2 linked regions of the Homo sapiens genome follow. The protein of the gene in region 1 interacts with the protein of each later gene in a biochemical or structural test. Each region holds a gene or a part of one and is shown in the gene's direction. Other genes may lie near its edges.

The links.
Region 2: the proteins of EGLN1 (region 1) and OS9 form a complex in vitro, tested with the Homo sapiens proteins (one study listed by BioGRID).

What each region holds. Positions count from the first base shown.
Region 1 is NC_000001.11:231,408,060-231,423,309, reverse strand, and holds the start of EGLN1 (egl nine homolog 1), read left to right. Parts: upstream 1-1,022; 5' UTR 1,023-1,421; coding exon 1,422-2,312; intron 2,313-15,250. UniProt on the Homo sapiens protein: Cellular oxygen sensor that catalyzes, under normoxic conditions, the post-translational formation of 4-hydroxyproline in hypoxia-inducible factor (HIF) alpha proteins.
Region 2 is NC_000012.12:57,705,853-57,721,102, forward strand, and holds part of OS9 (protein OS-9 isoform 1 precursor), read left to right. Parts: intron 1-9,907; coding exon 9,908-10,118; intron 10,119-10,236; coding exon of another isoform or gene 10,237-10,239; coding exon 10,240-10,341; intron 10,342-10,559; coding exon 10,560-10,660; intron 10,661-10,840; coding exon 10,841-10,892; intron 10,893-12,017; coding exon 12,018-12,106; intron 12,107-12,293; coding exon 12,294-12,569; intron 12,570-13,140; coding exon 13,141-13,330; intron 13,331-14,246; coding exon 14,247-14,411; intron 14,412-14,553; coding exon 14,554-14,666; intron 14,667-14,931; coding exon 14,932-15,057; 3' UTR 15,058-15,250. UniProt on the Homo sapiens protein: Lectin component of the HRD1 complex, which functions in endoplasmic reticulum (ER) quality control and ER-associated degradation (ERAD).

The sequences.
Region 1 (15,250 bases):
ATCACAGACCTTTTAATTCTTAAGACAAATAGCAGCAGAAAGAAACATCTTTGGCTTATTTCTGGTAAGGTTTTTATGCTCTGTAAAACAAAGAATTGTATTCATCCGCGCAGCACAGATTCTATTAAAAATAAATGTGAGAGTCGTTAATGTAGTACTGCTCATTTACCATCAAAATTCACTTTTCAGGAATAATCCCATCAGTTTAAATTGGATATTGGAATGAGCATTGATTACATTTAACTTGGTAGCCCAAAATTTCTTCATGGGGTTTTGAACTCGGCGGGATTTCAAAGGTTTTAAAAATGAGTTTTTGATTTTTTTTAAAACCCTCAAATTTCATTACCTTTAAACTAGGTCGAAACGGGGCGCAAGAGATTGGATTAACACCATAGTAATACTTATTTTGTTCTTAACCATTTCAGGGCTTCTTGAAATAGAGGCTGTATGGTGTAATGGAAAAAACAGCCTTGGAATCTGGGAGCCTGATTCCTGGATTCAGTCCCAGTTTTGCGTGACCTTGGGCAAGTTACTTTACTTCTCTGAATTTCCGTTTCCTCCTCTGCAAAATGAGGATCGCAATAGCCACCTTGCAACCTTGACTGGAGCGAGCCTCGCACACCCCGCGCCGGCCTGGAGGAAGAGCAGCCATGATTACGCCGCCTTCGCTCCGCTACCCGCTTGCGGCTGGCGCCCTCCTCCAGCAGGTGTAGGCGCTGCCGCGCTGCCCCACGCCTTTCCGCCGCTCGCGGGCCTGCGCCTCGGCGTCCCCGAGGAGGCCGCTGCGGGCTGAGGTAGCGCACCGGCCTCTCGGCGTCCCAGTCCGGTCCCGGGCGGAGGGAAAGCGGGCGACCCACCTCCGAGGCAGAAGCCGAGGCCCGGCCCCGCCGAGTGCGGAGGAGCGCAGGCAGCCCCCGCCCCTCGGCCCTCCCCCCGGCCCTCCCGGCCCTCCCTCCGCCCCCTCCGCCCTCGCGCGCCGCCCGCCCGGGTCGCCGCGGGGCCGTGGTGTACGTGCAGAGCGCGCAGAGCGAGTGGCGCCCGTATGCCCTGCGCTCCTCCACAGCCTGGGCCGGGCCGCCCGGGACGCTGAGGCGGCGGCGGCGGCCGAGGGGGCCGGTCTTGCGCTCCCCAGGCCCGCGCGCCTGAGCCCAGGTTGCCATTCGCCGCACAGGCCCTATTCTCTCAGCCCTCGGCGGCGATGAGGCGCTGAGGCGGCTGCCGGCGCTGCGCCGGAGCTTAGGACTCGGAAGCGGCCGGGCCGAGGGCGTGGGGTGCCGGCCTCCCTGAGGCGAGGGTAGCGGGTGCATGGCGCAGTAACGGCCCCTATCTCTCTCCCCGCTCCCCAGCCTCGGGCGAGGCCGTCCGGCCGCTACCCCTCCTGCTCGGCCGCCGCAGTCGCCGTCGCCGCCGCCGCCGCCGCCATGGCCAATGACAGCGGCGGGCCCGGCGGGCCGAGCCCGAGCGAGCGAGACCGGCAGTACTGCGAGCTGTGCGGGAAGATGGAGAACCTGCTGCGCTGCAGCCGCTGCCGCAGCTCCTTCTACTGCTGCAAGGAGCACCAGCGTCAGGACTGGAAGAAGCACAAGCTCGTGTGCCAGGGCAGCGAGGGCGCCCTCGGCCACGGAGTGGGCCCACACCAGCATTCCGGCCCCGCGCCGCCGGCTGCAGTGCCGCCGCCCAGGGCCGGGGCCCGGGAGCCCAGGAAGGCAGCGGCGCGCCGGGACAACGCCTCCGGGGACGCGGCCAAGGGAAAAGTAAAGGCCAAGCCCCCGGCCGACCCAGCGGCGGCCGCGTCGCCGTGTCGTGCGGCCGCCGGCGGCCAGGGCTCGGCGGTGGCTGCCGAAGCCGAGCCCGGCAAGGAGGAGCCGCCGGCCCGCTCATCGCTGTTCCAGGAGAAGGCGAACCTGTACCCCCCAAGCAACACGCCCGGGGATGCGCTGAGCCCCGGCGGCGGCCTGCGGCCCAACGGGCAGACGAAGCCCCTGCCGGCGCTGAAGCTGGCGCTCGAGTACATCGTGCCGTGCATGAACAAGCACGGCATCTGTGTGGTGGACGACTTCCTCGGCAAGGAGACCGGACAGCAGATCGGCGACGAGGTGCGCGCCCTGCACGACACCGGGAAGTTCACGGACGGGCAGCTGGTCAGCCAGAAGAGTGACTCGTCCAAGGACATCCGAGGCGATAAGATCACCTGGATCGAGGGCAAGGAGCCCGGCTGCGAAACCATTGGGCTGCTCATGAGCAGCATGGACGACCTGATACGCCACTGTAACGGGAAGCTGGGCAGCTACAAAATCAATGGCCGGACGAAAGTAAGTGTGTGCTGCGGGTTTGTGCTGGACAGGCCCTTCTCGGCGGGCAGCCCCTGCCTGCGACTGAAACTGCCTAGGCTGAGAAGCAGCATTCCTCTATATAGAAGGGACTCGCTCTTTCTTGTGTAGCTCCCCGTAAGGAAGACGGACAGAATTTGTAGTAGCTGTTTATCTAGTTAGCCCCTTTGTATCCACTGTTTTCCACTTACTGCCCGTTCACAAACTTCTCCGGCTAATTGCATGGTTTTTTGACTCAACGTAGGCGCTTTAACTTTCCTATTTTCTTTTTTCCATTCCACTATTGGTCACAATTCAAACCTTAGTGGCGTTTTAGCCACCCAGTGAAGGGGTGTTAGAGTACCACCCAAAGCAAGTCCTGGTTCTGCATCTGCCTTGTGTTTGCATAAGCTGTTAAATTTCCTATGGTGTCTGAACCACTCATCACATTTCGATTGAGAGTCAAACGCTGTGTTCAGTTAGGAATTTGCCGGCTGACCGCAAAAAGGTACATTTAAAATAAGCATTTAGTCGAAAGACTCTGTATTCAGGAAGAGCTTGGCTACTCCCCTCCCCCTGTTATAGCTCTTATCCCTCACCCTGTTCCTACTGTTTTGAAACCCGTTACAAAAAGGGGAAAGAAGTATTTCCGTCTTCAGGCCTCTCAGTGTAGGTAGGCTACATTTTTAGCACCAGTTTCCTTTATTTGCTTTGTTAATGTAATCCTTCTGTTGAAAACTGTTTTGTAACTTCCTGGAAAACAAAACAAAACAAAACAACAACACGGAATTGGCGCAGGAGGGCTCGTTTTATCCTCCCAATTTGGTGAGATCTTTTTGTTTTCTCTTTACTATTGCGGTTTTTCCTCCACAGATTTCTTCACTTCTTACCTAGTCTATTCCCTCTTTCCTCCCTCATGATAAACAGTAGACTCTTTCGTCCTTAACCAACTCTCTTGCAGCTCTTTTTCATTTTACTTCTCAGATCTTGATCTTTTCTTTGTGGCTGCTCCCAGGCCACCCTCCTCCACCATCAGTCTCTGATTTTGTGGGTTTTGAGAGATTGACCTGGGAGAGCATCACAGTTGCATGTTTGTACACACACGCTGACTCTAACTAGTGGTTTTTCTGTATGTGTGTGTCAGATCATCTACTTTGACAGTCATTACATGTGATTCTCAGGCTGCCCGAAAGACTGAACATAGGCAGTGAGAAAGTTATAAACGTGAACATTTTGTGGGGAAAAATACAATGTGGAGTCTAATTTACCTATTGCCACTTCATTGCTGGATGAAGGCACAAGTCTTAATTTCTTGTAGTCTTAAAAAGGAACAGTTGAATAATATTAAACTGGAAGGAAAAGGGGGATCTGATGAAATTTCAGCGTTGGTCTTTCACTAGATTTTCATTGATAAAATTTTTAAGAAAGTTGTCAGGGCACAACTTTAAGAAATTGTCACATCTGAACATAAAGTCCTGAGCTCCAGAGCAGGAAAGAAATTAGTTTGAGACAATAGGGCTGTGAAGACTGACCAAAGTATATAGTTGGGACATAAGCTTAAATTGGATTCTTGAAGAAGATGATGTCCCAAATCTTTCTTGATCTGCTTTCCTTAGTTAATTTAGCTTTCCAAGTTAAGCTGAGACCTCTTTTCTCTTTTGTCTTCCTGCTTTCACCTGTCCTTAGAGAAGGGACAGCAGACAGCCTGGCTCTTAGAGCAAATGCTTCTCATAGAGATGCTATTAGGAAATAGGTACCTCCTTCCTCAAGAGTTCTAGTTGTTGGGGTTTTAAGTCACGTAACTGTACATATTAGCAGGTAATAAGGGACAGGATGAAGGAGGGATGACCTTTAAACTCTTTGGATTTGATCTGCTTATATTAATTTTAGGGACGCAACTTCAGGATCTATAAATGATATTCAGGAATTCCTTTCATTGTACTTCTTGGCTGAAAGAGGTTTTGGTAATCGTGTTTGAACATGTAATTTATTCCTAAAAAACAAGGGTGTTTGCTTTGTGGAAATGAGAAGGCAATCAAAATAACCACCCACCGTATATTGAGCAACCAACCACAGTGTGTTAGGCATCATATTAGGATCAATACAGATACAATCAGAGTATTTTTTTTTTTTTTTTTGGAGACAGGGTCTTGCTTTGTTGCCCTGGCTGGAGTACAAGGGTGTAAGCATGGCCCACTGCAGCTTCCACCTCCTGGACTCAAGCTATCCTGCCATCTCAGCTTCCGAGTAGCTGGGACTGTAGGCACACACCACCATACTTGGCCAAATGAAAAAAAATTTTTTTTGTAGAGTCAGGGTCTTGCTGATCATTTGATCTCGAACTCCTCGGCTCAGGGGATCCTCCTGCCTTGTCCTCCCAAAGTACTGTGGTTACAGACTTGAACCACCTCACCTGGCCACAATAATCTTAATTCTGTGAAGTGAGTAGTGTTATTCCTAATTTACATTTGAGGGATTTTCAGCTCAGACTTGGCAGAGGTCTACCACTTACTATAACCCTGGCTGGTGTTCAAACTTAAGTCATTCAGATATCAAACCCATGCTCTTTTTTAACTACGCTAGTTATAGGTAGAACATTAAATGAGATGTAGATTATTTAGCACACTGCTGGAACTGCAATTTGATACATATATTTTGTTGAAAGTGGGTGAATAGCACTAGCTTTATATGTGAGTAATCATACTCTATGGTTGGGCTGTGTAAAACTTTTTATTAGGTGACTGTACAATGTTTATTTCAGATAGTGGCTTAAAAGCCACTTTTGTATTTATCCACCTGAATTATGCGCCTGTCAGTATACTGTTAACAGATGTCAGAATATGGTTTTTTTATGTGATTGCAGAGGGAGACTTCAATTCAGAATTTTATCCTTCATAACATTATAGTGATTTTAAAAGTTATATGCAGCAAATGTGTAGTATTTTTCTCATTTCAACTTTCACAGCAGTAGGCAGGTGGTTGTATCCCTTTTTTTATAGATTAGAAAAGTGGGACTCAGGAAAAGTTAGTTCACTTGTTGGAAATTCTGCAGCATATTAGGACTTAAATTCAGGTTTTCTGACTAAGAATCTGATGTTCTTTTTTATTTACATCATGTATATTGCATGCTCTTTATGTCAGGGCATGGTAATCAGATGATACATGATAGTCTGTGGCCCATTCAGTGTAGGCTTTGTTTTCCCCTGAATTTCTACTTCAAACATGCTTATCTGGCCGCTGTTTATGCAACTACTTTAAAAAAGGAACCATAAGGGAAAAATGAAGTCATACAGGAGAAAAACAGAAATGTAATTGTAGCCACTGATACAACCAAGCTCCTGTTTCCACTTTCTCTGGTCTTTTTGGGATTTTCTCCTTTTTGCCGTTACCCTGCCCTTTGATCCTATGTCCTTGCTTATGCTTGTTTTCATCAAGAAGAGTCTCAATGATATGCAGTAGAAAGAAACCATGGTCTGCTGTTTTGTGAAGAGTAGTGTGCCTTGACTTGGGGGTACAGGAGGAAGAGGAATGCAGAGGAGTGAGGATCATGGGAAAATGTTGAACTTTTCTGTTGGAGTTTCTTCGCCACTATGAAGGAAAACATTTTCCCATTAAAATAGAAATACTAGAATCATATACATAACATTTTTGGAATTTAATCCAAAACTTCATCTGTTCCGTTAAAACATACATAAAGAAAAGGAGTAATAAAATAGGTTGGGACTAATAAGCAGCAGATTATATTACTAAGATTTTTCACTATTACTGTAGTTAATTAGTTAGGTCTGGCTGATTATGGCTTTTAGAGCAAAGAATAGGATGAGGAAAATGCAGCTGTTTTATTATCACTAACAGAGATGTGGTGAACAATCCTCTTAGATGTTAAAAACGAAACTGACCCAGGAAGAGAGCCCTCATCAGTACCAGACCATGCTGGCATCCTGATCTCAGACTTTCAGCTTGTAGAACTGTGAGAAAATAAACTTATGTTATTTAAACCTAAATACATAAGTACACCTTTATCTCCTTTTTCCATTCTCTTTGTATGCTTGGGATCCAGGATACACAAATTGAAGTTACTTGTTTAATGATTTTATAACTATGTCAGAATTTAAGTTAAAAGTGAGTTACTCTGTATGTAGAAAGGCTGAAAATAGTACAACTGCAGTAATTCTGTCAGCTATAAGGGACGTGTGGACTGAGAGGGTAGTCTTAATAGATTGTGATCAACTATATGTGAAAACATTTTGTGTAGTGAGTTGATGTGTAGTTTACATGTAAACTAACTCCTTTAGTTCGAAAGGAATTTTATTTTACGTTAAAAGATTATTTTAGGCTGGGCTTTAGTGGCTCACGCCTATAATCCCAGCATTTTGAGGGGCTGAGGCAGGAGGATCGCTTGAGCCCAGGAGTTCAAGACTGGCTTGGGCAAATGGTGAGACTTTGTCTCTAAAAAAATTAAAAAATTAGCCAGGCATGGTGGTGCGAGCCCATGGTCTCAGGTGGGATGATTGCTTGAGCCCAGGTGATAGAACAAAACCCTATCTCAAAAAAAAAAAAAAAATTTTTTTTTTGTATGTATGTAACTCTTTACTTATCTACTACCTAATAATCCACAAAAATACCCACAAATCCTTAATTACGTGGAGGAGGAGGAGATGATAATAGAGATCATTTTAACTTTGAAAGATAATGGATTCCGGGCCAGATGTGGTAACTCACCCCTGTAATTCCCAACACTCTGGGAGGCTGAGGTGGGACGATAGCTTGAGTCCAGGAATTCAAGACCAGCCTGGGCAACATGGCAATACCTCATCTCTATTAAAAAAAAAATTATTAAGAAAGAAAGGGGCCAGGTGCGGTGGCTCACGCCTGTTACCCCAGCACTTTGGGAGGCTGAGGCGGGTGGATCACAAGGTCGAGGGATTGAGACCATCCTGGCCAACCAACATGGTGAAACCCTGTCTTTACTAAAAATACAAAAATAAGCTGGGTGTAGTGTTGCATGCCTTTTAGTCCCAGCTACTTGGGAGGCTGAGGTAGGAGAATCGCTTGAACCCGGCAGGCAGAGATTGCAGTGAGCCGGGATTGTGCCACTGCACTCCAGCCCGGGCGACAGAGCGAGACTCCGTCTCAAAAAAAAAAAAAAGAAAGATAATGGATTTGGTTCTGCCATTAGATCTGGGTTGGATCCTGGGTCTGCTATGGTTTCTGTATCCTTAGTCCAGTTTCTTAATTTCTTGAGTCGTCAGTTGCTCCGTTTATAAAATGGTGTTCAGTGATACCTGTGTTTTTAGCTTCTCAGGCTTGTTGTGAGGTGAACATATAATGTTTCATGTAAAGCACCTTTTAGATGGTAAAGCGCTATGCAGAACTGTTCTTAACTATTACTTCTCCCATTTAAAAAATTTGCTATCTTTCTGATTCTTTTAAGAATTCTGTGCTTTCCCTGTCTCATTCCCCTCCGATAAACTGGAGAAAAAAGGGCTTAGAATGATCACCCATTTTTTTACCTAACCACTTTTCCTGCATTTACACATTTTTTTTTAAAAGAGAAGAAATAACATTTTTTTAAGAGAAAAAAGTCCCAGAGAGATTAACTTCTTCAAGGTCATAGAGCTGGTGACAAAATCAACAGACCTTTGATTTAGTTCATTCATATCTGTAACTTTATACATATTTCTACTTAACTAATTTTGGCATATTTTACGCTTTTTTTTTTTTTTTTTTAAAGGACAGGGCCTAACATGCCCAGGCTGGAGTGCAGTGGTGCAATTATGGCTTACTGCAGCCTCCAGCTCCTGGGCTCAAACAATCCTCCCACTTGAGTCTCCGTAGTAGCTGGGACTACAGGCATGTGTCACCACACCTGGATAATTTCTTAAATTTTTTTGTAGAGACGGGATCTCGTTATGTTGTCTAGGCTGGTCTAGAACTGTTGGCCTCAAATGATCCTCCTGCCTTGGTCTCCCAAAGTGCTGGCTCATGCCTGTAATCCTAGCACTTTGGGAGGCCAGGGTGGGCGGATTTGCTTGAGCCCAGGAGTTCCAGACCAGGGGGCAACGTGGTGAAACCCATCTCTAAAAACAATACAAAAATTAACCAGGCATGGTGGCACATGTCTGTAGTCCCAGCTTCTTGAGGGGCTGAGGTGGGAGGATCGCTTGAGCCTGGGAGGTAGAGGTTGCAGTGAGCTGTGATTGCACCACTGCACTTCATCCAGCCTGGGTGACAGCGAGAGCCTGTCTCAAAAAAAAAAAAAAAAAAGTGCTGGGATTACAGGTATGAGCCATCGCACTGGGCCTCTGCCATTTTTGAGAATATGCTTGAACATTCGAGACTTTCTTCTCCCTTTTGCTTCTGTCATTCTACATGTTGGCTTATCTGACATTCTAGTTTAAATTTTTCTCCTACCTAATTTTCTTAAATGTTCTTTATCCATCTGTCTTTCCTCTGATACTATTTAAAGCCGTTTGCCCTGAAGTAGGCCTACCCTCTCTTGTTTCTTTAGTAGGAGCTGTCTTCCCACTCTGTGTTTCTGAGTGACAGTTTACTCCTGTTTTCCTTTCCCTTTTCTCTCCCATCAGGCTTGAAATCTTTGTTCTTCTTCCATGTTTTCTGAAGCCTGTGCCTTTCTGATATGCCTTTGGATTGATGTTGTCAGCTTAGTTGTTTTTGTTTAATTTTTCACTTTAGGCCTTTAAAGCTACCCCAACTATTTCAGTCTCCCTTTTATTCTAGCACATTCTTGGGCAGTTTCTTTTTCTTAGATTTTACTTCTGTGCTTACATTCCACCTTCTTTTCCACTGTGCCCTCGTTTCCACACTTGGAACATTGTCTGTGACTACATGATGGCATTCAGATAATTTACTAAGTCCATTTTCAGAGCTTGTCTTTGCCTTTTATTTCAGCTAAATCTCTTCTAAAAAAAAATTGATATAGATGGTTAACCAAAATCTTCTCTTACAACAGTTTATTTCATGCCTTATTTCGTAGTCAAAACTCAACTTTTCTGCCACCTTTGTACTTCATAATCACATTTTTCCATAACCAATTCAGAATTAGTTTCATTTCTGAAGAGCTTGGACAGTGTCTGTTGACTTGAGATCCCCATAAAGTTTTCATGAGTTTGGAATTCTCTTTTTTCTTATTCAGTGTTCCAGGTCCCATTTCTTTACCAAAGCAAAATACGTGTACTCTTTACCCTTTGTTATATTTTCTGAGTCCTGTTTTGATACTATTTTCACTCATTTGTTCATTCAACAAATGTTGAGTACCCTGCACATACAGGCCCTGTTCTAGGAGCTAGGGTGTCCTGAATAACAACAAAAAGCCCCCCTTCTCATGGACCTTATCTTCTAGTTGGAGGAAGTGTGGGGTGGGGAGGGACAGTCAATAAACAGATGTACAAGTAATACATGGCACGTTAGGTGGTAAATATTAAGATGGAGAATAAGATAAGGACAGAGTGACTAGGGAGTACTCTTTTAGATAAGATTGGTAAAATAAGGTGACATTTAAATAGTGACTTGAATGAAGTGGGAAATTAGTTATGTGGATATGTGGAAGAGGAGCATTTTCAGGAATGGTATTAAATAGCAAATACAGAGGCCCTAACTTGAAATGTGTTTGGTGTGTTCAGAAAACAGCAAGCACGGCACTTTGGGAGGTCGAGGTGGGCGGATCACTTGAGGTCAGGAGTTCGAGACCAGCCTGGCCAACATGGTGAAACCTCACCTCTACTAAAAATACAAAAATTAGCCAGGCGTGATGACATCCGCCTGTAGTCCCAGCTACTCTGGAGGCTGAGGCAGGAGAATTACTTGAACCCAGGAGGTGGAGCTTGCAGTGAGCCAAGATGATGCCACCGCACTCCAACCTGGGCAGCAGCGTGAGACTCTGTCTCAAAAAAAGAAACAGAAAACAGCAAGGAAACCACTGTGGTTTTAGTGGAAGGAGTAAAGGATATGTGATTGATGTAGTAGGATAGGAAATGAGATCAGTTTGTGTAGGATATATTCTGGATATATTTTGAAAGTAGAATCAAATGAGATTTGCTGATACATTAGATGTGGGGTATGAAAGAATGGAAGAGTCATGAATGACTTAAAGGGTTTTGGCTTGAGCGATTGGAAGGAAATTATTGTTTTATTTTGACCTAAGTCTTCTGCTTTTCTTCTCTTGCCCCCACTTTTTCAGTGTTGCCATTTATGATAGCTTGCTGACACTTACTTCCCAGCCAAGCAACAAGAAAAAAGTTATATGTTCTATATTTTCACATTCCTTCAAATTGGCTGTGCTAGCTACTACTACTGTTGACCTTCTAGCCCCATCCTTTCTTCTCTAGAGGTTTTAAGGTTTCTCTGTGCAGTATGCTTGTATCAGCTCTACCAGTGGAACCGCCTTCAGGAATTATTGCAGGAAACCTTGCAACACTTTTAGTGTTGTCTATAAGTATGTCTGTGCTTCCTTGCATGAACCACTCATTCAAGATGGCTTGTGAATCCACGTAAAAAGAAATATACGAAGTTTGAACTTTAGGGGAACATTAGAGAAAATTGAATGGTTCAACATAAGGGAAGCATAGATTTAGATTCAATGTCAAAATGAAGTCAGAAATAAAACATCTTCATTTAAACCTACTGTTGAAAATAAAACTGTTACAGAAAATTGGGAAGAATGGAATTACCGTAAAATATCAAAAATAGTTCCACTGACTTATCAATACATGACTGTATGATACACATGACTATATGATAGCTTCCTAAAGTAGTGAAGAAGAAGAAAGTTACTGATAGCTTAGGGACTGTATTGGATGATCTGTGAAGATATCAGTGTTGTATGAGCCTTTCATCCCTTTGATGTGGAGCCTGGCATTGGAATTGCAAATAAAAGTACCAAATATAAAATAATACTGGTACTATTAAAATTAGAATATACTATCCAGGCCTTTTTTTTTTTTTTTTTTTTTTTTTTTTTTTTTTTTTTGAGATGGAGTCTCACTCTGTCACCCAGGCTGTAGTGCAATGGCGTGGTCTTGGTTCACTGCAACCTCTGCCTGCAACCTCTGCCTTCTGGGTTCAAGTGATTCTCCTCCCTCAGCCTCCTGAGTAGCTGGGACTACAGGTGCCCACCACCACACCTGGCTAATTTTTTTGTATGTTTAGTAGAGACAGGGTTTCATTATGTTGGCCGGGCTGATCTTGAACTCCTGACCTCGTGATCCGCCCACCTAGGCCTCCCAAAGTGCTGGGATTACAGGCATGAGCCACTGTGCCCGGCCTACTATCCAGGACTTTTGAGCATAGGAAGCCTTGCTTTTGATTCTAAAGTGAGAGAGGGTCACAAAAGTATGGGTAAACATTAGATTGTCAGGTATGAAATAATTTTTAAAAATTAAAACCAGAAACATGAAACATGAACTCCAGAACCCAGGAAGCTGTAATCTCATCTCAATTCAGTTTAAGGCTAATTTTTATGTAATAACACCTTAATAGGAAATGTCAAATCTAAGAAGTAAATTGAAAAGGACTAATCATAAGTTTGGGGAATAAAAAGATTGACCATTGTGTTTGTCTGTTTTCACACTGCTGTGAAGACCTGAGACTGGGTAATTTATAAAGAAAAGCAGTTTAATTGACTCACAGTTCCACATGGCTGGGGAGGCCTCAGGAAACTTACAATTATGGCAGAAGGCAAAAGGGAAGCAAGGCATGTCTTACGTGACAGAAGGAGGCGGGGAGAATTGTCAAACACTTTTAACATAAGATCTCATGAGAACTCACTATCATGAGAACAGCATGAGGGAAACTGTCACCATGATCCAGTCACCTCCCACCAGGTCCCTCCCCTGACAATGGGGATTATAATTCAATATGAGATTTGGGTGAGGAGACAGAGCCAAACCATATTAACCATCTCTCTGAATTTTTTCTTATTAATATTGATATTTCCAATTTTCCTCTATAAATGGTGACTAGGAGCTTGGCTTCTATAGTTTTGTTATATAATTACCCTTTAATTCTATCTCAAGGCATATTTTACCTGTGTGATGTCTTCTACCAATTTCTGTTAGGTCTACTCTGAAATGGATGCCTTGAAAATTGCTTTTTAGCTAAAAAATTTAGTGATTCCCCGCCCCCCACCCCTTAGACCAGATATTTTTACTGCTGCAATAGCTCTATTAACCACCCCACCTTTAAAATCTTTGGCTACCCATTTACTAGCCTGGGTCTTATCCTTTCAGTTGTTTTTTCTTATATTTTTCAGTTTTCTTTTTTTCCTCAACTTACAATGGTAGTTTTTTTTCCTAAAGTTCAGTTCACTTTCTGTTCATGACTGTCAGAAGATGTGTATGTAGAAGGAACTTGAACATCTATATTTCTAGATTTTTCTTCTTAGTTTGTAGTAGTCATTTATTGCTACATAACAGATTACTCCAAAGTTTAGCAGCTTAAAACAACACACATTTGTTATGTCATACTTTCTGTAGACAAGGAATTGGGCACAGTCTAGCTACATCTTCTGCCTCACTATTTCTCACAGGCTGCAGTCAGGACATTGGTCAGGGTGTGTGGTCTCCTTCTAAGGCTTGAATGGGGAGGGATCTGCTTCTAGCCTCACTCAGTGGTTATTGGCACCATTAAGTTCTTGGCAGGTTGTTGGACTGAGGGCTTCAGTTTCTTGCCACGTGGGCTTCCCTAACATGACAGCTTTCTTCAATAAAGTATGCAAGCCAAAAAGGCAATAGTGTCTGCTGGCAAGACTGAAGTCCCAGTCTTGTAATCTGATGATGGAAGTGACATCCCATCACTTGTGCTGTATTCTTTTGCAAGAAGCAAGTCATTAGGTGACTTTCCATTCCATATGTGTGAGGAATCATACAAGAATATAAATACCAGTTCTTACGTCAGTTCTTCCTTGGCAGTGTCTGCCCCTTAAATGTTACTATTCTTTATGATCTGTGGTTTGTCTTCTCTTTTTTTCCCTCTAGTCTACACTTTTTTTCCCCCTGGGTTATCTTATGCGCTCATGGAAGCACAAGTTCTTAAACTAGTTTGCCTGTGTTGAAGCTCTTCTGCTACTTAATTGCTCTCTGATTTTAGACACATTTTCTAACCTAAAGCATTAATTTCCTCATCAGTATGATAGGAGTTAATAACAGTACTTAATCCAATAGGTCTATTTGAGGACAGGTGAGAAAATAAAGAAATACTCAACAGATAATCAGTGCTCAATTAGTATTAGCTGTAACTGTAACAAATAATAGTAATAACAACAATCATGACTTCAGCTATTAGGATTTGTTAAAGATTCCTTCGTCTGTCTCTTACTTTGGCATCTGTAGAGGACTGACAGACATTTCTACCTGAATTTTCTGGAAGTATTGCAAACTCAATGTGATTAAGACTGAAGTTTCCTCTTGTTGGAAGGAATGAGGATTGGTAAGCCTGTCTGATGGGGGAGATGGAGGAACAGATTTAAAATTGATCCTGTGAACTTCATTTAGTTATTCAACAGCTATTTACTGAGTGTCTGATCTGTGTTAGGCACTGAAGGTACCACAGTGCCCAGGTCAAAGTAATTCTCTCTGCCTTTCTGGAGTCTTAACTGTGTGAGGGAAATACAATGTTGAACCTGTAATTCCCAGTGCTATGTTTATGAGATGGAAGTACAGGATCCTATTGGGATCACACAAGAGGAGACCTAACTTGGTCTGCAGGCCAGGAGAGGTTTTTTTTTGTTTTTTTTTTTTTTTAAGAAATTAGGCTAAGACTTCTAAAGGTTAAGTTGGAGTTAAGTCTATTGAAAGTCTCCAAGTCTGGAAACAGCATGATGTTTTAGAAGAACATACTTTCCTTTATCAGTTTGAAAATTTTGCTTATTTAAAACTAATTTCCTATTAGTCTCTTGTTCCTCATTCCCATTTACACTCTTCATTGCTGTCCTGGATTATTACAAAAGCCTGTTTGTTTGTTTTTTTTCTTTTTGTATCTTTCTAGTTCATTCTGTCCATTGCTACTTTTTTATAAAGAACATTTCACTACCATATACTTTCTGTTCCAGCCACAGGAACCTGTTTGCAGGTCCCTGAACCTACCTTCATTTTCTAGTGCTGTGCATTTCCTCATTTCTTTCGTTTGGAAAGTGGTGAGAAGGTCCTCTAACTTGCTTCTTGCCCTCATTTCTCTAAGCAGAGCTACAACTTTGTCCTGTCTGTTCCTCTGGCACTTCCCATCACCGTGATAGCATACTTCACTGTGGCTGGTTTCCATTCCCATTTCCTCTACTATAGTGAGCCACTTGAGGCGAGAACCCTTGTATTTCCAACATTGGTGTACTCAGCATCTTGCGTCGAGGACTCAGTAAGTATTATATTTGAATTCCCACTGCACCGCTCTAATTAGAATTTTAAAAATCACTTTCTATCTGGATTGTTACACACTTTTTTTCCCCTTAATTCATTTTTCTCCATGTACTACCCATATGCATCCTATATAAATTTACCAACACTCATAAAAATCTTACTCAGAAATCTTCAGAGGTTTGCTAAGGATACAATTTGATTCTTACACATTTAATGCTCACCAGCTGCTTAGGCCCACACCATTTATCCACCCTGATTTGCTACTGCTCTTTGAAATACAACCAGTGTTTCAGCCAGACTGTTTTCCTGCTTCTGCTCCCCTTCTCCTCCTCCCAGCACATCTGTGAATTCTTTGACTGGTTTACCACTCCCACACTCCTCCCCAGCAATGCAGATCTTCTACACCCTTTAGGATCTAAGCTAAGTCTGCTTCCCAGATATCCTCCCGAACTCTGAATGTCCTTTGATCTCTCTTTTCTCAAAAACCTTTTATACCTTTTATTCCCAAATTATCTTCTCTAGAAATCTGTAAGGGCAGGGGAAGGAAAGGTTTTATACTATTCTGTCTTCGGC
Region 2 (15,250 bases), on another chromosome or scaffold:
ACATGGTCACATTATTGGTTTTACATATTGATCTTACACTCAGCAACTCTTTTTTGAACTCTTTCATTTTTAGTAGTTCACAAATTCTTGTGGATTTTCTGTATAGATAATTATGTCATCTGCAAGAGAAACAGTTTTGGTTTCTTCCTTTCTAAGTTGTATACATTTCATTTTTCTTATACCTCGAGTGCAACAGAAGTGGCAATGATGGGCATCCTTGACTTGTTTCTGACTTTAAAGGGGATGCTCCTGAAGTTTCACTGTTAGCGTGATGTTTTCCTGCAGGCTTTTTGCAGATACCTTTTATCAGGTATGTGAAGTTCCATTCTGTACCTAGACTGCTGGATATTTTCACCATGTATAGGTGTGGAAGTTTAACACATGCTTATTCTGTGTCTATTGAGATAGTCATATGGTTTTTTTAATATTAAAAATGTTAATTTATTTTCTAGTTTTTTTTTATTCTTTCACTTCTGGGATAATCCATGGTCATGAAGTTTTTTTTTTGTACATTGCTATATTCAGTATCCTGATAGTATAATTAACTTTTATAACTATTTTCGTAAGTGAATTGGTCTATAATTTTCTCTTCTTGTACTTACCTTGTTTTTGTATAAAGTTGCATTCACTTCATAAAATATCTTGAGGAGCTTCCCTCTTTTTCTGCTCTGTGGAGCAGTTTGCTAAGATAGAGATTATTCTTCAAAGGTTAGGTAGGGTCGGGTGTGGTGGCTCATGCCTGTAATCCCAACACTTTGGGAGGCCAAGGCAGGAAGATTTCTTGAGCCTAGGAGCCCAGCCTGAGCAACATAGTGAGACTCCTGTCTCTCAAAAAAAAAGTTTTAAATTAGCCTGATGTGGTGGTGTACACCTGTAGTCCCAGTTACTTGGGAGGCTGAAGCAGGAGGATTGCTTTAGTTGGAGAGGTTGAGGCTGTTAGGAGCTGTTATCACGCCACTGGACTCCAGCCTGGGTGACAGAGCATGACTCTCTGAAAAAAAAAAAAAAAAAAAAAAAGTTTAGATAAAATAAATCCTCCCCATCCCCACAATATGCTACAAAACCGGTATATTGGGGGGATCGTTGTTGCTACTGATTTAATTTATTTAAAGATTATAAGACTTTTTTGGTTTGCTGCATCATGAAGCTTTAATAAAGTATAATTTCATAGGCCATTATTCATTTGTCTAAATTTTCAAATGTATTAGTATAAAATTACAGATTTTTTTGTTTTTTAATAATCTCTTTTTGTAAATATATCCTCTTTTGCATTCCTAATATTGACTTTGCCTTTTCTCTTTTTTCTTGATCTATGTTGCCAGAGGCTTGTCTAGTTTATTAGTCCAATAACCACCTTTTGGTTTTGTTTATCCTCTCTGTTGTTCATTTAGTATTTCACTAACATTGTATTAGTCCATTCTCACATTGTTATAAAGAAATACCTGTGACTGGGCAATTTATAAAGAAAAGAGGTTTAATTGTCTCACAGTTGTGCTGGCCATACAGGAAGCATAGCAGCCTCTACTTCTGAGGAGGATTTAGGAAGCTTCCAATCATGGTGAAAGGCAAGTGGGGAGCCAGAGTCTCACATGGTGGAAGCAGGAGCAAAAGAGAGAGGGGGGACATGCCACAACCAGATCTCTTGAGAACTCACTCACTGTCACGAGAAAGCACCAAGGGGATGGTGCTTTATGCTCCACTATGCCCAGCTAATTTTTTTATTTTTAGTAGAGACGGGGTTTCTTCATGTTGGTCAGGCTGGTCTCGAACTCCTGACCTCAGGTGATCCACCTGCCTTGGCTTCCTAAAGTGCTGGGATTACAGGCGTGAGCCACCGTGTCCCGCCACATGTTCGTTATTTTATCTTTGTTATTTCCTTCCTTCTCCTTTCTTTGTGTTATTCTGATTTCTTTTTTTTCTAACAACTTGAATTTTTTTTAACATTAAAAAATTCTGGCCAGGCATGGTAGCTCATGCCCTATAATCCTAGCATTTTGGGAGGCCAAGGTGGGAGGATCACTTGAGGCTAGGAGTTTGAGACCAGCCTAGGCAACACAGTGAGACCCTGTCTCTATGGAAAAAAAAAAAAAATTAGCCAGGTGTGGTGGCACGTGCCTGTGGTCCCAGCTACTTGGGAGGCTGAGTTGGGAGGATCTCTTCAACCCAGGAGGTCAAGGCTACAGTGAGCTATGAACACACCACTGCACTCCAGCTTGGTGACAGAGCAAGACATCATCTCAAATTTTTTAAATAAAAAATTCTATATTAAATTTTCTGAATAGGCATAATCACATTCACATAACTCAACTATAGAAATGCTTAAAAGGTATACAGAGAAAAGTATTAACACATCTTGTCCCTCATTAGCCTCTTTCCATCCTTAAAGAAAGGTAACCATTGTTAATTTCTTTATATACTCTGAGATTTTTTTAAATGCACATATAAGCATATATCTTTGCACTCTTTCCAAATCAATATATATATAAAACCTTACTTGGGCCAGGTGTGGTGGCTCATGCCTGTAATCCTAGCACTTTGGGAAGTGGAGGCAGGAGGATCGCTTGAGGCCAGTAGTTTGAGACCAGCCTAGCCAACGTAGTGAGATCCCATCTCTACAAAAAAATATTTAGCCAGGTGTGGTAGTGTGTGCCTGTGGTCCCAGCTGCTCAGGAGGCTGATAAGGGAGGATCTTTTCAGCCCAGGAGGTCAAGGTTGCAGTGAGCTATTGTCATACCATTGCACTCCAGCCTGAGCAAAAGAGTGACACTGTCTCAAAAAAAAAAAAAAAGTCATCCTTATTCCTGCATATAGTTTCTGTTATTCTGTTATATAGTTGTATCATTTTTTATCTAAATGGTTCCCTGTTGATGGACATTTAGCTTGCTTTAAATCTTTTATTAACACACAAGTGCTGCACTGAATAATCTTGTACTTACAGAGGATATGTAAATTGAGTTCCTGGAAGTAAGTTTGTGTAGTTTTGCTATGTGCTGCAGTAAGTTTGTGTAATTTTGCTACGTGCTGCGAAATCACTCTGCTTAGGTAAATTACTTTCCCTCCAACAACGTATGGGAATGCTGATTTCCCTATAGCCGTGCCAACCTGGTATATTTTTAAACTTTTGGATTTTGGCCAATCATCAGGTAGGCATCAGAGAAAGAATGATTTCTTAGTGTGGTTTTAATTTGCATTTCTCTTAAGAAAAAAATGTCTAATTTTCCTCATTTAAGGGTTTTCTCTACTCCCTTCTTTACTCTTTTCTTTCAGCTGTCCAAATTCTTTGCTCGTTTTCCTAATGGCTTGCTGGTCTTTTTCTTGTCAATTTATAAGAACTCTATATAGTAGAGATATTGTCCTTTTGTCTGTGATGTGAGTTGCAAATATTTTTATAACTTCTTCAGCGAAATGCTTTTCAATCTGTCTTCTCTCTTAATTATACACTTAAAGCTCTACATTTCACTCTGAGTACTATTTTGGTTGCATCCCTCAAATTTTAGTATGTGGTGTTTCCATTTTCATTATGGTTTCTACGTGCTTCTGAACTTATTTAGAATTATGCTTAATATATTTCTAAACAAATGTGTTTTGCTTTGTTGTTTTTATATGATTGCTATTGGTTTCTAATTTTATGCCATTGTGTCAGTGATTCTTTTGGTGATTGCTGAGACTTTCTTTTTGATGAATTTTTAAAAAATTGTATGTTTGCGCTTGAAAGCATGTCTTTTCTCCAATTAAGCAGTTCAAGATGCTCACCGTATTGTTCAGATTTTCTACAATTTTATGTTGAGTTGACTAGTGATCATTTAAAGAACTCTGTTAATATTCCCACTGTGATGGTGGATTTGGCAATTTTGTTAATTTTTTATTTATATGTTTTAAGGCTATGTTTAATTTTGAAATTAAATAATTTATAGGTTTTCTAATGTTGCACCAACTTTGCATTCCTGAAATGAACCAAATGTGGTCATATATATTATCCCTGACGATCCCTTTTTTTTTTTGTTATTACTTTTTTTTTGAGACAGAGTCTCACTATGTCACCCAGGCTGGAGTGCAGTGGCATGATCTCGGCTCACTGCAACCTCTGCCTCCCAGGTTCAAGAGATTCTCGTGCGTCAGCCTCCCAGGTAGCTGGAATTATAGGCGTGTGCCACCATGCCCAGCTAATTTTTGTATTTCTAGTAGAGATGGGGTTTCGCCATGTTGGCCAGGCTGGTCTCAAACTCCTGACCTCAAGTGATCCGCTCACCTTGGCCTCCTGAAGTGCTGGGATTACAGGCGTGAGCCACCCGCACCTGGCTGTGGGTAGATTTTTAACTACTGATTCATTTTCTGAAGTAGTTTTAGGAATATTCAAAGTTTTCTGTTTCTACTTGGGACAGTTTAAGTTTTCTTTTCAGGAGTTCATTTCATCTAACTTTTAAGATTTATTGGCATAAAGTTCATTGTATTCTTCTATCTTTTTAATCTCTGTGGCATCTGTAATTAGGTTCCTCTTTTCATTCCTCATGGGTTATTTTTGCATCACTAATTTGTTACTGGTCAGTCACATCAGAGGTTAGTCAGTTTTACTAGTTTTTTCAAAGAAACAATTTTTGGCTCTGTTGAGCTTCTCTGTTGTATTTGTTTTCTATTAATTTCTACTCTAATCTTTATTTTCCTTCCTTCTACTTTTCTGGGTTTATTTTACTGTTTGTTCAACTTCTTGAAATGAATGCCTAGCTCATTCATTTTCAGCTTTTCCTCTTTTATATCTCATAAATTTGTCTCCAACCATCTATATATCTCTGACAAGTTTTTAATGGCTATTTTAAATTCCTTATCTAATTATTAAATAGATAATACTTTCCCATGATACAAAACCCAGAAAGTATTATTTAAAAGGTATGTAATGAAATATTTCCCACCTGGTCATGGTGGCTCATGCCTGTAATCCCAGCACTTTGGGAGGCCGAGGCAGGCGGACCACCTGAGGTCAGGAGTTCAAGACCAGCTTGGCCCATATGGTGAAACCCTGTCTCTACTAAAAATACAAAAATTACAGGGTGTGGTGAGGCATGTCTGTAGTCCCAGCTACTCAGGAGGCTGAGGCAGGAGAATCGCTTGAACCCAGGAGGCAGAGGTTGCAGTGAGCCGAGATCACACCACTATGCTCCAGCCTGGGTGACTGAGCAAGACTCCGTCTCAAAAAAAAAAAAAAAAAAAAAAAGAGAAAAATATTTCCTCCCATACTTGTCTCTCATCTGCTCATTTCCCATTCTCTCCCCGCCATCCCTGCTCCAGCCCCACAGGTTAACCCTGGTCTTAGTTTTGCATGTATCCTTCCAGCCTTTTTGTGTGATTACAAACAATTATGAATGGAGATTCTTATTTCCTTTCCCCTTTATTTATAAACAATATATAGTAAATTAAACACACTGTTCTATACCTTGCTTTTATTTCCCTGGACAATAAACCTTAGAGAGATCTTTCAATGGCAGTATATCTTTTTTTTTTTTTTTTTTTTTTTTTTGAGACGGAGTCTTGCTCTGTTACCCAGGCTGGAGTGCAGTGGCGCGATCTCTGCTCACTGCAACCTCCACCTCCCGGGTTCAAGGGATTCACCTGCCTCAGCCTCCCGAGTAGCTGGGACTACAGGTGTGCGCCACCACACCCAGCTAATTTTTGTATTGTTAGTAGAGATGGAGTTTCACCATGTTGACCAGGATGGCCTTGATCTCTTGACCTCGTGATCTGCCCTCCTTGGCCTCCCAAAGTGCTGGGATTATAGGCATGAGCCACCATGCCTGGCCCTTTTTTGTTTTTATAGCTGCATAAAATTCCATTGTGTGTTCCATCATTTTGTCACCATTATTCTACTGGTTGAAATAGTTCCACCCCCAATTCTTTTGTTGTCACAAATGATTATTACATTGTACATATATGCATGTGTAAATATATCTTACATATAATTGGGCTGGGCACAGTGGCTAATGCCAATATTCCCAACACTTTGGGAGGCTGAGGAGAGAGGATCACTTGAGCCCAGGAGTTTGAGACCAGCCTGGGCAACAGAGCAAGACCCTGCATCTATTAAAAAAGAAGAAAAAGAAAGTAAGCAAAAAAAGCATAATTGCCAGGTGCAAGTTATGGATATTTAAAGATTGTCTTTTTTAAACTTTTTATTACAGAAACTTAAAAACATATATAAACTCCCTACAAAGGTGTATCTGTGGTTCCCTGTCTTTGGACACATAGGATGGTATTCCTGTTCTCTATTTCATTTATTTTTGTCCTAGTCTGTAGTCTTTCCCTCTGCTGGCTCTTGGTTTAGTGTGTTCTTCTTTTTCTAGTTTCTTAAGATAGAAGGGTAGATTATGGAGTCAAGATTTTGTTTTTAAAAAATTGATGTTTATAGCTATGAATTTCCCTCTAAGCACTACTTCAGCTGCATCCTGTAAGTTTGGATATGTTATGTCTTCATTTTCGTTCATTTTTGAGGTATTTTATAGTTTTCTTTTGATTTTTTTCCTTTAACTCACTGGTTACTTAATGAGTATATTGTTTAATTTCTACATATTTCTGAATTTCCAAATTTTTTTCCTCATTCATTTCTAATTTTATTCCATTATGGTCAGAGAACACACTTTGTGTGACTTAAATTCTTAATTCTTTGAATATATTTATTAATATAATGGCTACTTTTAACTCTTTGTGAGATCCAACATCTGGGCCCTCTCACAGGTGGTTTCTGTTGCCTGCATATTTTCCTATATATGTTTCATACTTTACTGTTTCTGCATGTTTCATAATTGTTGAAAATCAGACATTTTAGATAGTATGTTGTAGTAACTCCAGATAGAAATTCCTGCCCTCCACCCCATGGCTTTTGTTTGTTCATTTGTTCAGTGACTTGGCTGCACTACTTGCATTCAGTCTCCCCCTCACAACATGAAGCCTCTAGTGTCTCTTCTCAGAGTGCACGGTCTTGGCCCTGCACACAGCCACACTAGATGACAGTGGTTTCAGCAGGCTTTTTGACTGTTTCTTTCATGAATTTGTTAAGCCATCTGCCTCTGCTGGTATCACCCCCAGCTGTTAGGCTCCATTCATTGCCAACTAATTGCTTTATTGTTTTTGACATGTGGGGCATAAGTTGTTCCATAGTTTAGTCCAGTTAATTGTGGGCCCCTTTGTCGGGCTAGTTTTTGAGGGCAATATATAGGTTTGTTCTGAGTCCAGGACGGCTCTCAGTTGCCCTTTCCCTGGTTCTCTCTGTTAAACTAGCTGTCCCAAGGTTTAGCCTGTTGCTATCATGGAGCAATCAGCCTCCTTTTAATTGCCTCCTGCCAAAATCTCTACATTTTTGAAGTGCCTATAGGCTTGAATTTCCCCATACTCTGTTTCATATTAAGTCAGGTCCTTTGGAGAATGTTTTGGAGCCCTGTATTCTTACGGACTGCCTCTCCCCCTGGGCAAAATCCCCGAGGCCCTGCTCTGGAGTTGGGGTCAGGAATAATGGCTTGCTTCACTTGGAAGGACATTCCTGCTTTATGAGCAGGGAGCTAGGCAGGGATGACAACCTCTGCTCTCTCGGTTTGCATCTCCTTTTGTGAAACCTCCACTCTCTGAGCAAGCTTCCGTGAGGGCAATCAGGGCCCCGATACTTTTGTCCCACTGCACTTGAGGTAAAGCCTCTGCCCTGTGGGTGGGGCTGAGTGGAGGAAGGGAGCCCTTGATCTTTTTCAGGAATTTAGTTGCTGTATCTTGGAGCTGGTGGCCCTCCTGGTAAAATACCATATATCATATCTCATGACTGGATGTTGAGAGAATAGGAAGTCCCTCCCCCTCCACCGCCCCACCCCACTTTTTTTTTTTTTTTTTTTAACTACGCTTACCTGCTGGAGTGGAGCTTTAGTCTAACTGAGCTGTGGGGTAGGGGTTTGGGGCATAGATTGAGGGAGCATGTCATGGTTCAAGTGCTGCAAATTCTCACTATTCAAGATTTAGTAGCTGGGCATGGTGGCTCACACCTGTAATACCAGCACTTTGGGTGGGAGGATTGCTTGAGCCCTGGAAAGCCTGGACAACATAGCGGGACCCTGTCTCTACAAAAAAATTTGTAAAAATTAGTTGGATATGGTGGCACACACCTGTAGTCCTACCTTGGGAGGTTGAAGTGGGAAGATTGCTTGGACCTAGGAGGTTGAGGCTTCAGTGAGCTGTGATCATGCCACTGCACTCCAGCCTGGGTGACACAGTGAGACCCTGTCTGAAAAAAAAAAAAAGATTTAGTAGATTTTCTTGAGTAAACATTTCTTCATTTGTTATATGTCCTTAGGAAAATTTCCAAAGAGTTTAAATGCTTTATGTTTGTTTGTTTGTTTGTATTGAGACAGAGTTTCACTCTTGTTGCCCAGGCTGGAGTGCAATGGTGCGATCTCGGCTCACCGCAACCTTGGCCTCCCAGGTTCAAGCAATTCTCCTGCCTCAGCCTCCCGAGTAGCTGGGATTACAGGCATGTGCCACAAGGCTGGCTAATTTTGTATTTTTAGTAGAGATGGGGTTTCTCCATGTTGGTCAGGCTTGTCTCGAATTCCTGACCTCAGGTGATCCACCTGCCTCGGCCTCCCAAAGTGCTGGGATTACAGGTGTGAGCCACCGCGCCCAGCCATGCTTTGTGTTTTTAAATTTTCATCAGTAATGGAGTTTCCCTGTGGAGTGTGCGAAATCCCTCATGCTGCCATTTCAGAAGTAGGACCGCTCCCACTTTTTGTTTTTGAGACAAGGTCTTGCTTTCCACACGGGTTGGAATGCAGTGTGGCATGATCATAGCTCACTGTAACTTTGAACTCCTGGGCTTAAGGGATCTTCCTGCCTCAGTCTCCCAAGTTGCTAAGACTACAGGTGCACACCACCACACCTCGCTAATTTTTAAAAATTTTTTGTGGAGATGAGTCTCACTATGTTGCCAAGGCTGGTCTTGAATTTTTGGCATCAAGCCATCCTCCTGCCTTGGCCTCCCAAAGTGTTGGGATTACAGGTGTGAACCACCAGCCTCTCTTACTTTTAATAGTTATTTTAGAAATTAGAATATTGCATGCTTAATTTATCAAAGGCCAATCAATCTCTTTACCCTCTTTCTGAATGATATAAGAATCTTAGAATTGTTTGAAGTTTTTTACCATATGCACATATATAAAAATTACATATTTATATACAAATATATATACACTTTAAAAAAAATACAGGCCAGGCCTTGTGGCTCATGCCTGTAACCCCAGCACTTTGGGAGGCCAAGGTGGGTGGATCACCTGAGGTCAGGAGTTCAAGACCAGCTGGGCTAACATGGTGAAACCCTGTCTCTACAAAAATACAAAAATTAGCCAGGCATGATGGCAGGTGCCTGTAATCCCAGCTCCTCGGGAGGCTGAGGCCGGAGAATCGCTTGAACCCAGGAGGCGGAGGTTGCAGTGAGCTGAGATCATGCCATTGCACTCCAGCCTGGATGACAGAGTGAGACTCCATCTCAAAAATAATAATAATAATAATAATACATATATGAAGCAAATAAAAGTATATATATACACACACACAATATTTATACAAAACAAGAATATGAAACATAAATTGGTTACCTACAGTTAAGCTGCCTGAATTCAGTTCCTGTTTTTACCACTTAAAGGCTGGTCAACCTGAACAAGTGCCTTAACTGCACCACACCTGTTTCTTGAGGCACGAAGTTGAGAAACCAATATCGCCTCACTGGGTCTTTGTGATAAGTGAGCCAATTTATGTAAAGTGCCATATGCACAGTGTATGCACAATGCTTGACAGATAATCAGTGCTTAGTAAAAGACACCTGCTCTAATAACTAAAGCAAATTATTGTTGGTGATTAAGTGTATTCATCCTTTCTGTCCTGGCAGTTCCTCTGTGACGAGGGTGCAGGTATCTCTGGGGACTACATCGATCGCGTGGACGAGCCCTTGTCCTGCTCTTATGTGCTGACCATTCGCACTCCTCGGCTCTGCCCCCACCCTCTCCTCCGGCCCCCACCCAGTGCTGCACCGCAGGCCATCCTCTGTCACCCTTCCCTACAGCCTGAGGAGTACATGGCCTACGTTCAGAGGCAAGCCGGTGAGTAATTAGAGAAGGAGGAGAAGACGGGGAGATACGGGGGCAGGGGGTGGCAAAAGATCAAGTATTGAATAGCTGGAGGAATGTGTTCCTGGCCTGCTTGCATGCTGTTTCTCAGTAGACTCAAAGCAGTATGGAGATAAAATCATAGAGGAGCTGCAAGATCTAGGCCCCCAAGTGTGGAGTGAGACCAAGTCTGGGGTGGCACCCCAAAAGATGGCAGGTAGGACCTTGTTTCACCTGTTCCGTGAAACTCACTTCCATTTCTTCCCTTCCCCTGATCTTACTGTCCTGACTGACTGGTGGGGTGGGGGGGGGTGGAAAAGTACCATGGGCCCTCCTCCCTTGGTGATAGAGGAGGGGAAGGGACCCCATCCTATTTGCTCCCTTCTGTCTCACCCCTCCTGTCAGATCAGTCTCTCCCTGTTCTCTGTACCCTAGGTGCGAGCCCGACCAAGGATGACAGTAAGGACTCAGATTTCTGGAAGATGCTTAATGAGCCAGAGGACCAGGCCCCAGGAGGGGAGGAGGTGCCGGCTGAGGTGAGACCAGCTGCCTCAGAGGAGCAGGATGGGGATGGGGAGGGTCACTGCAGCTGGGGCCATTGTGAGGTGACCTACATCTACCTAGGGATGCAAGGATATCCCCAGAACCTTTGCCTTCATAGTATGGAGGGCATGAACAGGCTTTCATACTTGACTCTCTCCTTTTCTCCTCGTCAGGAGCAGGACCCAAGCCCTGAGGCAGCAGATTCAGCTTCTGGTGCTCCCAATGGTGAGTGAACCTTCCATGTCTCCTTTACTGAATATATTTTAGGATTGGCAGGGGTAGGGATGGAGGGGAGAGCTAAGCCTGGGAGGGAGGTTGGGTAGCCAGGCCGGCAGAAAATTCATTTTTATAGGAGTTAATACTCTTTGTAGACAGCACTGCTATTTTAGCAAGGTGGCAGAACACAGTGGCTCCACCACTTGGTGACTTTGTAATTCACTTAACCTCAATTTTCTTACCCATAAAATGAGGGTAATAACCCCTACCTTAGAGGGTTGCATGGGATTAAATGAGAATGCATCCATAATTCACAGTAGAAGGCCTGGAACTGAATAAACTAAATGGTTAATATTTGTGGAAAGAGGAGAAGGGTTCCAGGGAAGACAAGCCCTTAGCCCCAGGATCTCCTCTGTAGTCCTAAAAGCTAGAGTGACTGCCAGAAGGGCCTCAGAAGTGCATGGAAGAGTGGGGACTTAGCAGCTTGTTAGCATCCATCTCTCCTACCAGAGTGTCCACCTTAGGATGGTGCTCTCTGCAGGCGAATATTTGCCCTTGTCTCACTGTCAAACAGGTAAATCCTAGAGGCAGGGACCATGTCCTTCCTTGGTCTCTCATTACCTGTCCTTAGGAATCCAGAGAGAATTTAGGAGCGCAGTAGCGCACACCTGTAATCCTAGTTACTTGGAAGGCTGATGCAGGAAGATTGCTTGAGCCCAGGAGTTCAAGATCATCTTGGGCAACATAGTAACACACCATGTTGAAAAAGAAAAAGAGCCGGGCGTGGTGGCTCATGCCTGTAATCCCAGCACTTTGGGAGGCTGAGGCAGGTGGATCACCTGAGGTCAAGAGTTCAAGACAAACCTGGCCAACATGGTGAAACCCCATCTCTACTAAAAATACAAAAATTAGCTGGGTGTGGTGGCAGGCGCCTGTAATCCCAGCTACTTGGGAGGCTGAGGCAGGAGAATCTCTTGAACCCGGGAGGCAGAGGTTGCAGTGAGCAGAGATTGCACCACTGTGCTCCAGCTTGGGTGACAGTGCAAGACTCTGTCTCAAAAAAAAAAAAAAAAAAAAAAAAAAAGAATTTAAACACAACAGAACAGGTTCATGATTATTATTCTTTCATCTCAGATTTTCAGAACAACGTGCAGGTCAAAGTCATTCGAAGCCCTGCGGATTTGATTCGATTCATAGAGGAGCTGAAAGGTGGAACAAAAAAGGTATAGGCCGTGCTTAGGGAATGGGTAGAACCCACCTCCCAACTGCGAGCATTTGAAAAACTACCCTGACCTGGGACTCAACTCCTGGGTCCCCCAGTACCACACACCTGCTACTGTTTGTCTGCCCCCGACCATGTGTCTCTGTTGAAACCCCAACTGTCTTTCTCCCCACTCCCTACCCACCCAGGGGAAGCCAAATATAGGCCAAGAGCAGCCTGTGGATGATGCTGCAGAAGTCCCTCAGAGGGAACCAGAGAAGGAAAGGGGTGATCCAGAACGGCAGAGAGAGATGGAAGAAGAGGAGGATGAGGATGAGGATGAGGATGAAGATGAGGATGAACGGCAGTTACTGGGAGAATTTGAGAAGGAACTGGAAGGGATCCTGCTTCCGTCAGACCGAGACCGGCTCCGTTCGGAGGTGAAGGCTGGCATGGAGCGGGAACTGGAAAACATCATCCAGGAGGCAAGCCCAGCTCTTCCTCCTGTTGCTTCCACAGCCGCCTGGTCCCGTGGAGCAGGACAGGCTGACGGGCTAAAAGAAACAGAGGGCACAGCACAGGGCAAGGACGGGGCACTTGGAAGTGGTAGCTGTTTCCCTAATTAATCGGGGCTGTTGGGGAAGGGGGACCAGAGAGAGGGACAAGACTTAAATATCAGACTCTCTGGCCAGGCGCGGTGGCTCACGCCTGTAATCCCAGCACTTTGGGAGGCCGAGGTGAGCGGATCACCTGAGGTCAGGAGTTCAAGACCAGCCTGGCCAACATGGCGAAACCCTCTCTACTAAAAATGCAAACAAATTGGCCAGGCATGGCAGTGGGTACCTGTAATCCCAGCTCTTTGGAAGGCTGAGGCAAGAGAATCGCTCGAACCCGGGAGGCGGAGGTTGCAGTGAGCCGAGACGGCACCACTGTACTCCAGCCTGGGTGATAAGCAAAACTCCATTTCAAAATATCAGACTCTCCTACAGAGCCCAGCCCGCTGGCTGCCTCCACACCCCAGACCCTTGACTCACTCTCTTCTCTTGGGTATTCCAGACAGAGAAAGAGCTGGACCCAGATGGGCTGAAGAAGGAGTCAGAGCGGGATCGGGCAATGCTGGCTCTCACATCCACTCTCAACAAACTCATCAAAAGACTGGAGGAAAAACAGAGTCCAGAGCTGGTGAAGAAGCACAAGAAAAAGAGGGTTGTCCCCAAAAAGCCTCCCCCATCACCCCAACCTACAGGTGAGAGCAGTCAGACAAGAAAGAGTAGCCCAGTCTGTTGTTTTCATCCCTCAGCTGGTTCTGTTCCCAGAGGGGACCCTGTTCCTTCCCTTCTGAGGGTGCTCATTCTCTCCCCACTTTCTGGAACACTGTCCTCACTTGCGCCTGCTTCCCAACACCATCATCCCTTTGCGTGTTTACCTCCTATTCATCCCTCTGGGAAGCAGCTTTTAGAGCATATCTGCTGGTTTTCTGGTTTGCTCCTGTACACCCAGTGCCTAGCACTCTGCCTGGCACACAATGGATGATCAGTAGCTAGTAATTGAATGCTTGTGAGTCTATATGCTGAAAACCACTTTAGGACTTTGCACCAAGAGAGGCCCCAGCTGTCAGGGCATGAATAGGAGAGCCCAGCTGCACATGAGCCAATAGCTTGGATAGACTTTAAATTATTTCTTCTTCTTGTATCCCCTTGTGTCCATTTCATAGTGTCCTATGGGTGTGGACATCAGATATTCTAAATGGAATGTTCCAGTTTCAAACCTTCCATTCCCACTCTCTCTATAAACATTGAAATGTCTTTAAAGTCCCAACATATGGAGGAGGAGACCACACTTTTCCAACCTGCTTCTTCAAACAGAACTTTGTTGGTGCAGGTGGCCTGATTTTGGCTTTAGAAAACATTTGTTTTCCTATAGGTGACGGGCAGAATTATTGGGTAGGGCGGGAAGATGGAAGGCTGCAATTGGTGGAGGGAGCTCTACAGGCTGAACTGGGAGGGGCGGGGCACACATTTTTTTGAGCCCTGGCTCATATACATGTTGAGATGGAAGAGCTGCCAAAGCCAACTGATGTTTTAGGGGGAGATGACCCCCACACCCCTAACCCTGGAGTCACGCCTCTGCTTTGTGTTTCCCTGTGTGTCTCCCCCTCTAAGAGGAGGATCCTGAGCACAGAGTCCGGGTCCGGGTCACCAAGCTCCGTCTCGGAGGCCCTAATCAGGATCTGACTGTCCTCGAGATGAAACGGGAAAACCCACAGCTGAAACAAATCGAGGGGCTGGTGAAGGAGCTGCTGGAGAGGGAGGGACTCACAGCTGCAGGTGGGCCCTGGAGGGCGGCTGGACCCAGTGCTGTCGGAAGGGCAAGCTGCCGGAAGTGGAGGGGCTGGGACCAGTGGGGCAGGGGGCCTGCCCTGAGGCTCCCAACCATCCTCTCCTCTCACTGCATACTGCTCCTTTCCAGGGAAAATTGAGATCAAAATTGTCCGCCCATGGGCTGAAGGGACTGAAGAGGGTGCACGTTGGCTGACTGATGAGGACACGAGAAACCTCAAGGAGATCTTCTTCAATATCTTGGTAAGAGGCTTCTACCCCCGAGTCCTGGCCCCCAGCCCTCCTGGAGTGGAGGTGCGGGCTTGCCCCAGCCACGCCATTGCTGAGCTTCCATTTCCTGATCTGTAAGACAAGGCTGGGGTTCCAGTGGCTCAGAGTGCTGCCATGCAGGAAGAGCCCCTCAGGACATGGGTGTCCTCATTCCCTGCCTTCCCCCAGCTGCCTGGCCCAGGACTTCCCTGGGCTCAACGGCCAGTAGCTCCAGCCCACCTCTACCCTCTCCCACCAGGTGCCGGGAGCTGAAGAGGCCCAGAAGGAACGCCAGCGGCAGAAAGAGCTGGAGAGCAATTACCGCCGGGTGTGGGGCTCTCCAGGTGGGGAGGGCACAGGGGACCTGGACGAATTTGACTTCTGAGACCAACACTACACTTGACCCTTCACGGAATCCAGACTCTTCCTGGACTGGCTTGCCTCCTCCCCACCTCCCCACCCTGGAACCCCTGAGGGCCAAACAGCAGAGTGGAGCTGAGCTGTGGACCTCTCGGGCAACTCTGTGGGTGTGGGGGCCCTGGGTGAATGCTGCTGCCCCTGCTGGCAGCCACCTTGAG